Linked DNA regions of Homo sapiens. The protein of the gene in region 1 interacts with the protein of each later gene in a pairwise test. Each region holds a gene or a part of one and is shown on either strand. Other genes may lie near its edges.

What was found.
Region 2: the proteins of IGBP1 (region 1) and REXO5 interact in a two-hybrid assay, tested with the Homo sapiens proteins (one large-scale study listed by BioGRID and IntAct).

The regions. Positions count from the first base shown.
Region 1 is NC_000023.11:70,142,440-70,148,319, reverse strand, and holds part of IGBP1 (immunoglobulin-binding protein 1), read right to left. Parts: intron 1,688-5,880; coding exon 1,492-1,687; intron 1-1,491. UniProt on the Homo sapiens protein: Associated to surface IgM-receptor; may be involved in signal transduction.
Region 2 is NC_000016.10:20,842,962-20,848,160, reverse strand, and holds part of REXO5 (RNA exonuclease 5), read right to left. Parts: intron 4,228-5,199; coding exon 4,135-4,227; intron 3,533-4,134; coding exon 3,316-3,532; intron 3,108-3,315; coding exon 2,920-3,107; intron 1,941-2,919; coding exon 1,822-1,940; intron 1-1,821.

The DNA of each region.
Region 1 (5,880 bases):
ACGGTGCTTTAGAAGTCAATGTTCCCAAAGGAAAGGGAGAAGGATTGGTTAGTAGTTTCCATATAGACGTATATAGAAAAGTTTCAAGGAACCTTGGCTTTCTAGGGGCATGCTGAAACAAAGGATGGTTAAAGAAAAGGTGCTCACTTAGTTCTAGCTCGATCACTTTCAGAACCAATTCCAATACCACATGAAAGCACATTAAAACAACAACAACACAACGATTACAACAAACAAACAAATGAACAAGAAAAAACAAAAAACTCACACACAAAGAAAGGGACAGGGCAGGACCCAGAAAAGTCCAGCCTCAAAATGCTTGAAAAGCACTCATCTAGACATGCTCAAGGGGCCTTATAACCTTAGAATATTAATTGTTCATTCTTTGATCTCTTAACATGAAGAACTAGGTTGATGTTATCCTGAGGCAAGAGCTCCTGGGCTAATTAGTACAAATCAAATTAGGAAGAGGTTTCTCTGAGGACTTAAATAAATGCCTGTGACTTGCTGATAAATTCAACCCAATTCATGTTGTGTCCTGAACCAAAGAACAAGTGGCAGCAGAGCCTATTCTTTTGAAGCAGCAGCTCCAAAACAGGGTTATGATGTTCAAAGATAGCCAAAGCTGTTACACCAGGTTTCTTTACCAGTTTACTGGACATTCTGTGCATGGAAATGCCCTTGCTGTGTCTCCTACGTGGGTAATCTAAAGGTGTGACAGTGCATCATTGTGGCAAGGTTAAATTCTAATTCCTCCTCCAACCTAAGCATATCCCCCTGGTCTTTTATTTCACTCTTCCTACTCTTTTCTCCCTCTCCTCCAGTTCTACCTTTCTTCTCCATTCCCATCCTCTTCCTCTCTTCCCCTTCATTATAGTCAGCACAATTTTTTTTTTTGAGATGGAGTCTCATTCTGTCACCCAGGCTGGAGTGCAGTGGCATGATCTCAGCTCACTGCAACCTCTGCCTCCCAGGTTCAAGCAATTCTCCTGCCTCAGCCTCCCGAGTAGCTGGGATCACAGACGCGCACCACCACACCCGGCTATTTTTAGTAGAGGGGGTTTCGCCATGTTGGCCAGGCTGGTCTCAAACTCCGGGCCTCAAGTGATCTACCCGCCTCGGCATTCCAAAGTGCTGGGATTACAGGCATGAGCCACCGTGGTGGCCAGTTAGCACAGATTTTAAAGGTTTAACTCCCTATGCCTTCCCTCAGCAGCCACAGCTTTCCACAACCAAAACCAATTTTTATTTCAGAGACATTTCTGTCCCCCATGGTATACCACAAAATTACAAATGACTACAAGTGTGTTACAGATTAAAAAGCACTGGGGAACACATTAAATTAAAGAGAAAGCTACCTTAGTGACCCTTCGGCCTTTCTATACTCATCTTGATAAAAACAGTGATTTTATGGAGACTTAAAAGGATCTTAATTTGATCTCCTGTAGAATACTCAAATCTCTGGCAGTAGATTTCTCTGGCCAGGCTTACCTCTCTTGAAGAGTCTCTTTCTCTCAGGATCTTTATTTCCTGGTCAATGCTCTCAATCTCTTCTAAGCTGATATCAATCCACCTCTGAAGGTGAAGAAGATAATATTCACGAACACGCTCATCATCTGCTTGACCACTTTCCACAGCAGATTTCATTGCAGACAACCTATGCTCCAACTCCTTCTTCTGCTTGTATCTGTTCCACAGAAAAGCATTACCCATGAACTTACAAATGAAGAGGTATTCCTTCAAAAGAAGGCCTCAATAAGATTTTACCTTTGCAAATGATAGGGTAGTAAGCATACCAATTTCCACCTTGGCAGGGATATAGATTCTATACCCCAGAATTAGCCACCAGGCAGTTCCCTCAGATGACAAGTTAGGGCCCAGCAGGGGCTGAGGAGTACCTTCTGAAGCCAGAAAAATACAGAAGTAACCGGATCTCAGCAAGTCCTTTAGGGAAGATGAGTACCTTAGTCATTTGATTATACTGGCCTTTACTAGGGTGGGTGCTTAGTATCGCAACACAGTGCTTCCTGTGATGCTTCCATTTTGGGAACTACACCTTCAAAAAAATCATAGAATCTTAGGGGTCATTTACCTGCCACTGATGCAGGAATGCCTTGTGAAACAGCCTAAAAAATGATCAACTCTTTTTTTCTTCTGGGCAAAACTTTCGCAGCTCTTCTGGCTCATCCTTTTATCATCTGAAGACTCATAACCACCCTGGCTGCCTTTCTTTTTCAGGATGCATTCTAGTATGTCATCTGACAAATGTCTACTGAGTACCTATTGTGTGACAGGCACCATTCTCAGTGCTGGAGACACAGCAGCATATAAAAGTCCTTGGTCTCATGAAGCATTCATTCCAGTGGGAGTAGACAAAAAGAAATAGATGAGTTAGGTCGTGATAAGTGCTATGAAAGAGCAAAAAGTAAGGTCAAATGCATACAGTGATGGTGGAAAAGTAGCGGTGCTATTATATACAAGGTAGTCAGAAGAGAACTCTCTGAAGAGATGACAGTGAACAAAGACTTCAGGAAAATAACTAAGCCAATATCTAGAAGAGTATGCTAAGGAATAAAAGCAAATACGAGGGCTGTGAGGTGGGAGCGTGCCTGGCCTGACATGGCTGAGAAATAACAAGGTGGCCAGTATGGCTGAGATAAAAAAGAGTGATAGAAAATGAGGTCAGACATAGCCAGGGCCATAATGTGTAGAACCTGGTAGGTCACAATAACCAAATATCAAATATCATGGTATTTTGAATGGGAAAGCCACTGGAGGCTTTTGAATACATGACATGAATAGAGTGACATAAAAACACTTTTAAAAATATGGGCCACTCTGGCTGTTGTGTGGAGTATGGGCTGTGGGGGCTATGAGGCAAGGATATAAGCAGGGAAAGCAACTAAGAGGATACTGCCACAATCCAAGTGAGAGATGGTGACCTGAAATAGGAAGGTAGTGATGGAGATAGTGGGATGTGGGTATATTTAAAATATAAAATAGATAGGATTTGTTGATTTATTGGATGTAAGAGCCTGAAGGAAAGAGAGAAGTCAAGGAAAAACATCAAGATTTCCAAGAGACGTATCTTGAAATATCTCTGCTTGAAATCCCACTTTAGACTCTCCAGAATCAGATGTTCCTCAGTAGGTCTTCACCCAAATCAGGGGGTCTTAAGCTGAAGTCCACAGAGAGTTCAGTGTGGTGGGGGTGGTCCTTGAACTCCCACAAATTTTATACAGAACTCTACCTGTATGCTTTCTTTTTCTTTCTTCTTTTTTTTTTTGGCTGAGAAATTTTTATAGATTTTATCAAATTGTCAAAGGGGCAAGGGGTCCATGACCCATGAAAAGTCAAGAACCGGCCGGGCACAGTGGCTCAGCCCTGTAATCCCAGGACTTTGGGAGGCTGAGGTGGGTGCATCATGAGGTCAGGAGATCAAGACCACCCTGGCCAACATGGTGAAACCCCATCTCTACTAAAAATACAAAAATTAGCTGGATGTGGTGGCAGGCGCCTGTAATTCCAGCTACTCAGGAGGCTGAGGCAGGAAAATCGCTTGAACCAGGGAGTGAGAGGTTGCAGTGAGCCGAGATCGTGCCACTGCATTCCAGCCTGGCAACAGAGTGAGACTCCATCTCAAAAAAAAAAAAAAAAAAAAAAAAAAAAGTCAAGAACCACTGTTCTGAAAAGGCTATTATAAAAATGTTTAGGCTCTTCTGTTCCTTTTACCTAACAAGTGGACATTTACTATAATGTTACGAATAACTGACACATCATCATCCTAAGAAGCTTTTTGAGTAAAACACTACAAAGAACTACAATTCCTAGTTCATGAATGCTATCAGAGATATTACTTGAGAATGTTTAACTCCAATCTCACTCCTATCCCCAACCCTCTTTCCTGGATGTACCTAAGTCACGGGAAAAAAATAACATACGAGGACCTTAGGGTGATATAATTCAGGGTAAATTCAGGGTTAGTCTAGTAGTCCTCTGAATAAGGTTCTTTTGTTTCTTTTCCCATTCTCTGCATGCTTAAGGCCTAACTACTGCACTCTGCTCCTTCCTTTTCTTCTACTTCCTAGCTTCTATGACTTTGCTCATCATCTTTGTTTGTTTGTTTGTTTTTGAGATAGAGTCTTGTTCTGTCACCCAGGCTGGAGTGCAGCCGCACAATTTCAGCTCACTGCAACCTCCACCTCCTGGGTTCAAGTGATTCTCCTGCCTCAGCCTCCCAAGTAGCTGGGATTATAGGTGTGCACCACCACACCCAGCTAATTTTTGTATTTTTAGTAGAGATGGGGTTTTGCCATGTTGGCCAGGCTGGTCTTGAACTCCTGACGTCAGATGATCTGCCTGCCTTAGCCTCTCAAAGTGCGTTCCAGGCGTGAGCCACCGCGCCCAGCCTGCTCATCATCTTTTAAACTTCTAACTCAACACTTGTTCATTTGGGCCAGTGTTTTTAAAACTGTTTTAGTAAAAGAACCTTTTCTTCTAATGAGAGATGCCACGGAACTCCCATAATTAATAAACAAGTAAAATTTACCTTGGTTAAATCAGGAGGGCTGTCAACACCCGCCCCCCCAACCCCCAGGCATTGCAGTGAAATTTTAGGGCTCCAAGGAACATATGGAAAACTACTGTCTTAGACCTTCATCACTGTTATGGATTCTCCATGGTGGGCCATTACATGGAAATACTCCCTGTTACCCTAGAATCCCCTATCCTTGTAACCCTTCTGACCCTGGGCAACTTCCATTTCCTTTCTCTGTTCCCAAGCTGTTGAAGAGAGTTAAGGAATTAGAAACTTGTATCAAATGGGTCAACTACAAATCACTATTGTCAAACTTTGGCTGAGTGGTCACCCTTGCTCAGCCATCCTTTCGTTCATCTTTTGTGAAGACTATTATCACCATCACACTCACCAGATGGCCAGCCAATGTAGAATTCAATTTCCCTCTTCACCATAAAATCTCTGTAACTGGCCGGGAATGGTGGCTCACGCCTGTAATCCCAGCACTTTGGGAGGCCGAGGCAGGCGGATTGCCTGAGGTCGGGAGTTCGAGACCGGCCTAACAAGGAAAAACTCCATCTCGGCCGGGCGCAGTGGCTCACGCCTGTAATCCCAGCACTTTGGGAGGCTGAGGTGGGTGGATCACAAGGTCAGGAGATCGAGACCATCCTGGCTAACACGGTGAAACCCCACCTCTACTGAAAGTACAAAAAATTAGCCGGGTTTGGTGGTGGGCGCCTGTAGTCCCAGCTACTCGGAGGCTGAGGCAGGAGAATGGCTTGAACCCGGGAGGCGGAGCTTGCAGTGAGCCGAGGTCGCGCCACGGCACTCCAGCCTGGGCAACAAGAGTGAAACTCTGTCTCACAAAAAAAAAAAAAAAAAAAAAACAACTCGATAACTTCACTCTTCCTCTTTTACTGTTGTCTTTAAGGAGCTGATTCTGTCTCTACCAAGCCATTTCCAAGGTAATATCTTTGTGTTTTTTTTGTTTTGGTCTCACTTCGTTGCGCAGGCTGGAGTGCAGTGGTGTGATGACAGCTCACTTTGGCCTCTAGCTCCTGGGCTCAAGTGATCCTCTCACCTCAGCCTCCCGAGTAGCTAAGACTACAGGCACACATCACCATGCCCAGCTAATTTTTAATTTTTTTGTAGAGACGGGGGTCTCACTACGTTGCCCAGGCTGATCTTGAACTCCTGCCTCAAATGACCCTCCTGCCTCAGCCTCCCAAAGTGCTGCGATTAAAGGCACAAGCCACTGTGCCCAACCAAAGGTAATGTCTTTACCACTCCACTTTTGTTATCAATCTAGTACCCCCCACACATTCTTCCGGGCCTCACTCTATTTATTGATCATCCTCCTGGTC
Region 2 (5,199 bases), on another chromosome or scaffold:
CCACAGCCTGGGGAAATGCATGCTACTGCTGCTGAGTTTGATCAATATGTCTACAGAAATCAGAATGTGACTTTTAAAGGATAGGAGTAGTTCAGGTTTCTTCACCACAGGATTTGCTGCTTCCAGGGGGTGCTTAATTCTACTGACTTGTCAAACTTAGGACCTTTGTCTCAGTCACAACTTAAGTGTTTTTGCTCCCTGACCCCAGCACTTCCTCCTCTGGCTTCACCCTCTGTGGAACATCCAGGAAGAACAATGATTTGGGCTACTCTTGACTTAGTTTACCTAAACAATGGTGGACTGTAATCTAAGTATTCTACGTGAGAACATGAAAACCCAGTCCACCTACCACCATACACTGCCCCTGAGGAGCAAGTCTGTCTGTTCCCCAGAGCCCACATCTTAACCAAAAAGCTTTTACTGGCAACTTGTGGTCACTTTTTAACCTGTTCCTGTTAGCTTACCCACAAGCCTGTTTAAAGTATGTTGGTCTAAGATTTTTTTTCCCCTCAATGTAAGCACCTAATACTTGTTTCTGCTTTTCAGAGAAAGCGGTTCTTTCAAAGGTGCCCAGTAGGTAGACCATCTCCCTAATGGTCCTCAGATGCATGTTATAAGAACTTTATGCTAGGAAATGAATTTCTTCTGATCCACCTTCAAGGCCAGAGGTATTCATGCTCTGTCAACTCCTAGAATGTAAGAATCTTTTTTTTTTTTTTTTTTTGAGATAAGAGTCTTACTCTGTAGCCCAGGCTGGAGTGCAGTGGTGCAATCTCAGCTCACTGCAACCTCTGCCCCCTGGGTTCAAGTGATTCTCGTGCCTCAGCCTCCCAAGTAGTTGGGACCACAGGCACACAACACCAAACCTGGCTGGGTTTTTTTTTTTTGTTTTTTTTTTTGTGTGTGTGTTTTTGGTAGAGACAGGGTCTTGTCATGTTGCCTAGTCTGGTCTTGAACTCCTGAGCTCAAGTGCTCCGCTCACCTTGGCCTTCTAAAGTGCTAGGATTATAGGCATGAGCCACTGCGCCTAACCAGATGTCAGAATCTCAAGGGACTTTTAAAAATTAACACAACCCAAGGTTTTCACACTGTTCAAAAAAGCCACCATCTTTCCCTCCCTTCCCCAATATACACTCATTCATTTAGCTGCCCACTCACTCATTCCAAAACTGCCCATCTTTATGCTTTAAGATTTAATATCAGTTTTTCTTTAAAGAAAGGGTTTACAGTTAAAAGGGTTTGAAAATCAACTGATTTATTCCAAATCCCTCATGTTACTAAAAGGACATTGAGACCTACAGTGGGGAAGTAGCTTGGCCACTTGTCAGAGGAGATAGGTGATAAAGCTGCAACTAGACTCAAAGTCCTGCTCCAGTATTCCTCAGGCTTAGAATCAGCAAACCAGGCCCTGTTATCTCTTAAAACATAGGTGTCAATGGGGAAAAGGGTACAGAAGGCAGGAACACATTCCTCACATGTAGAGTGGTTACACCTAAGCCTAGGGCTTGTTCTGAGACTTTACTTTTTTTACTCAAGTGGGGTTAGCAGCTACTTCTTACTCCAGAGAGCAGTAAGGACATAAGACTCCTGGTTTTAACTGGGGATAAATTATCTCCTTGAGGGACCAATAAATGTAGTTATACAAGAGCATATAAATGTGAAATGGGAATACAATGCCTATCTTTTAGAACGGTGAAAATTAAAGAGATGATTCATGTAAGTCCTCACTATGTGCCTAAATATCAGCAAAAGGCTTTTTCTCTAAGAACAGCTGAAATCCAGGGGACAGAGTCCTGAAGGGATACCCTTTCTAGTCCTTACCTCTTGGTTCCTGGCAGCAGGATGAGGCAGAGAGTGCCCGGGCACAAGCTGTTGTAGAGCTTTCCAATCTTCCGGCTCCAGCGCCAGGCTGCTATCTTCGGGTGGTCCAGTTTCAGAGTCTGGGATCAAAGCCATGTGTCGATACTCAGCCAGAACACTCTCTCGTTACCTTTGGAAGGGCTGCAACACTCTTCCTCTGCCTCTAAGGCTATGGGATTCCAGTAAAGGTTCCAGACAAATCCCTTTTCTAACACTGGAGCCCACACTGCAGGTTCTCTGCTGACCCAGCATCCCCAGGCCTCCAAGTTGGCTAAGGACTTCCTCAGGGGAGGACAGCTACTGTCCTTTCCTCCACATGGGTCTTCCAAGACCCCAAGCTAGGGGAGCCACATTGCTGATGAGGGGTCTAGTCTGGCTTCTGCCATTAAGTCTCTTTGTGACCTTGGGCAAGTGACTTACCAACTCTAGCCCCTACTTTTCATCTGTTAAGTATGAGAGATTAGACTAAGACAGGGTTTCCCAAGCTTCAGCCATTTACCTTCTACCTCCACTCTTCTGCTTGTATATCCCTCTAACATTTTTCCATAAAGTGAGTTAATTTCTTCCTTAGCCTTGTCTAACTAATGCCATCCACAAAATCATAGGCTCAATGTAGTTATTGTATACTTTAACAAGTATTAGCAAAACAAGTCCATTCAGATGTCTTAGATATAATAAAAAGACGGACAAGTCCATAATCATAAAAGTGAAAACAAAAAAGAAAAGACCATCTATGACAACCACAATTTATCTTGTGTATATACCACACTTTGGGAAACCCTAGACTAGATCACTGAATAATTGTCCAGCTCTCTGACTTCCTGCCTTTGTCCTTCAAAGTCCCTTGGAGATCTGGAAGACTAAAAAACTAAGTTTAGCAGGTATGGTGGGGGCAAAAGTATGAGAGATCTGCGAGAAAAGATGTGGCCAGGACTGGAGGAAGCTGGAGAGTGAAATAAGACTGAGGGCCAGGGTAGAAAAAAAAAAAAGATTAAAGGATTAAGTGTCACTGAGCAGGACTCTCCTGACATCTTCTCCAAGACGCCTTCACTCACTCACCTGCAAGGCCTCCTGTTCAAAGGGGGGAGGTACAACACGAAGCCCTGGGAGCCTTGTTGATTCAGGTGGTAAGCCTCTGAGCCAGGCATGGAGGTGCCTGGGGGTTAGGGCATGCCTGCCTTTCAGCTTCCAGTCCTTGCCTGTGAGAATGTTGAGGGCCTGCTGGGCACTGCCAAAACTTTTGAATTCTGAAAGCAAGAACCCCCACCTTATGTTATTAAGGGCCAAGAAAGCTGATCACCATCCAAGCTGCCTGGCCAGGGTCAAAGGAGAAGGACAGAATCAGGAACTGCTGCCCTGGTCCAGCCCAGGAGGTGAATCTTCCTTTCTCTGACCTCATGTTATCACCATCCCCAGTTTCCTTCCCCAAAGCTACATTCAGTAGCATAGACTTACTCAGGAAACAGTATTTTTTCTGCTTTCCACTTTTAAGATCTTTAGGCAAGATCACAGCTTCCAGGCCAAGAAAGAGGCGGGGCTCCTGCAATAGCTGTTCTTTGAAGGTTTCACTCACTCCAGACAGATATATAGAGCCTTGGTTTTCAGAATCTCCTTCCAGCTCATTCACGAGGGTGTCACAATCAAGCGTGAGCTCTGTCACAGGCCTCTGCACCTAACCAAGGAAAGTTGGTGTTAGTGGTAGAAAATCAATTTAATCCTCAGGCCTATTGGATACTAGCAAGTTGTTGCCATTACTAATAACTTCATTTTTCAGTTTCCTAAAATTTTCCGTTTCTTTTCTTTTCTGTAAAAGGAAACTAAAGATAATGGCCTCACAGAATTATGTTAGAGACTTAATTGATAAATACATATTTTCATGTAAACATATTCTCTTCAGTTTCCTGCCTCCCACCCTTAATGAAATTCTGTTTATGTGCACAAGAAACTTCAAAATACCACCATTTGATCTCCCTGAAAGGTGAAGAAAAGGGTAACCACAAAGAACCAACCAGAATAAACCACAGGGGACTTAAGTAGTAACAAAGAATGCAAGGAAGACCCAAATCTAGCCCAGGATGATTTCTGACACAAATGAAAGCCGTTATGTCTTCAATCACTGCCAGTAGGAGAATGTTAGACTTGGCTGAAGACTTTCCATAACAAAGTCTTGTGCGTGGGCCTCTTGAGAGTGTTTCCTATATGTCCTGGGGCACTATAAATACAGGCTGTGGTAGGCCAGACCCAAGCAAAGGGGGCTTTCTCTTGTCACCCTACCTTGATGCAGATACCATCTACCAGAATACCATCCAAGGATTCTATGGCCAGCTGGGCAGCTTCTAGGACTTCATACTGTATACAGAGATGAGGCTGCAGAAAGACCAAGATTTCCTCATCATTGCTTTCCAGCTCAAACTGCTAAAGAAGGGGTTGGGGAAAGGATTCAAACTACAGTGGCCAAAGCCACCAGAATGGATGCCTTTACTGTGCTGGGCTACACAAGTATTGATTGTAAACTGTCAACTTTAAATGGGATCATCAAAGTTCAGAAACTAGCTTTCAGACAACAAATAACTTTGTCATTTAAAATGGAACTACCCAACAGGCTTTTCATAATATTTATTATGCATCACTAAAGTCATCACTGCAAGTCACGGGCAGAGATTCCCATTTGTCTTTTGGCTTAACTTTATAAGCTTGGGAAGGATAAGTTCTTCCACTGGATAGGCTACATCTTCAAATGGTCTGCTTTTCTGTTTGTTAACTCGGAGTAACTAAATCTTTGTGATTATCTGAGCCATAGCATCAATATGGAGATAAAAGCCTTCCCATAGAAAAGTTTCATGACACTGGATTTGGCAATGGTTTCTTGAATATGACATCAAAGGCAGGCAACAAAATTAAAAATAGACAAATTAGACTTCATAAAAATTAAAACCTTTTGTATATCAAAGGACACTAACAGCAGTGTCAAAAAGCAACCCACAGAATGGAGAAATAGTTGCAATCACATAGCTAATAAAAGATTAATATCCAGAATGTACAGAGAAATCCTACAATTCAACAATAAAAAAGCCAAACAACCTGATTTAAAAATGGGCAAACACTGCAGAGTAGCTGGAACTGAAAAAAATAAATAAGAAAAAAAGGGCAAACAAGTGAATAGACTTTGCTGTAAAAGATGTACAAATTGCCTGCGACACTCAACATCACTAATCATTAGGGAAACGCAAATCAAACCCAAATGAGATACCATTTCACATCCATTAGGATGGCTACTATTAAATAAAATAGAAAACAAGTGTCAGTGAAGATGTAGATAAGTTGGAACCTTTGTTCTTT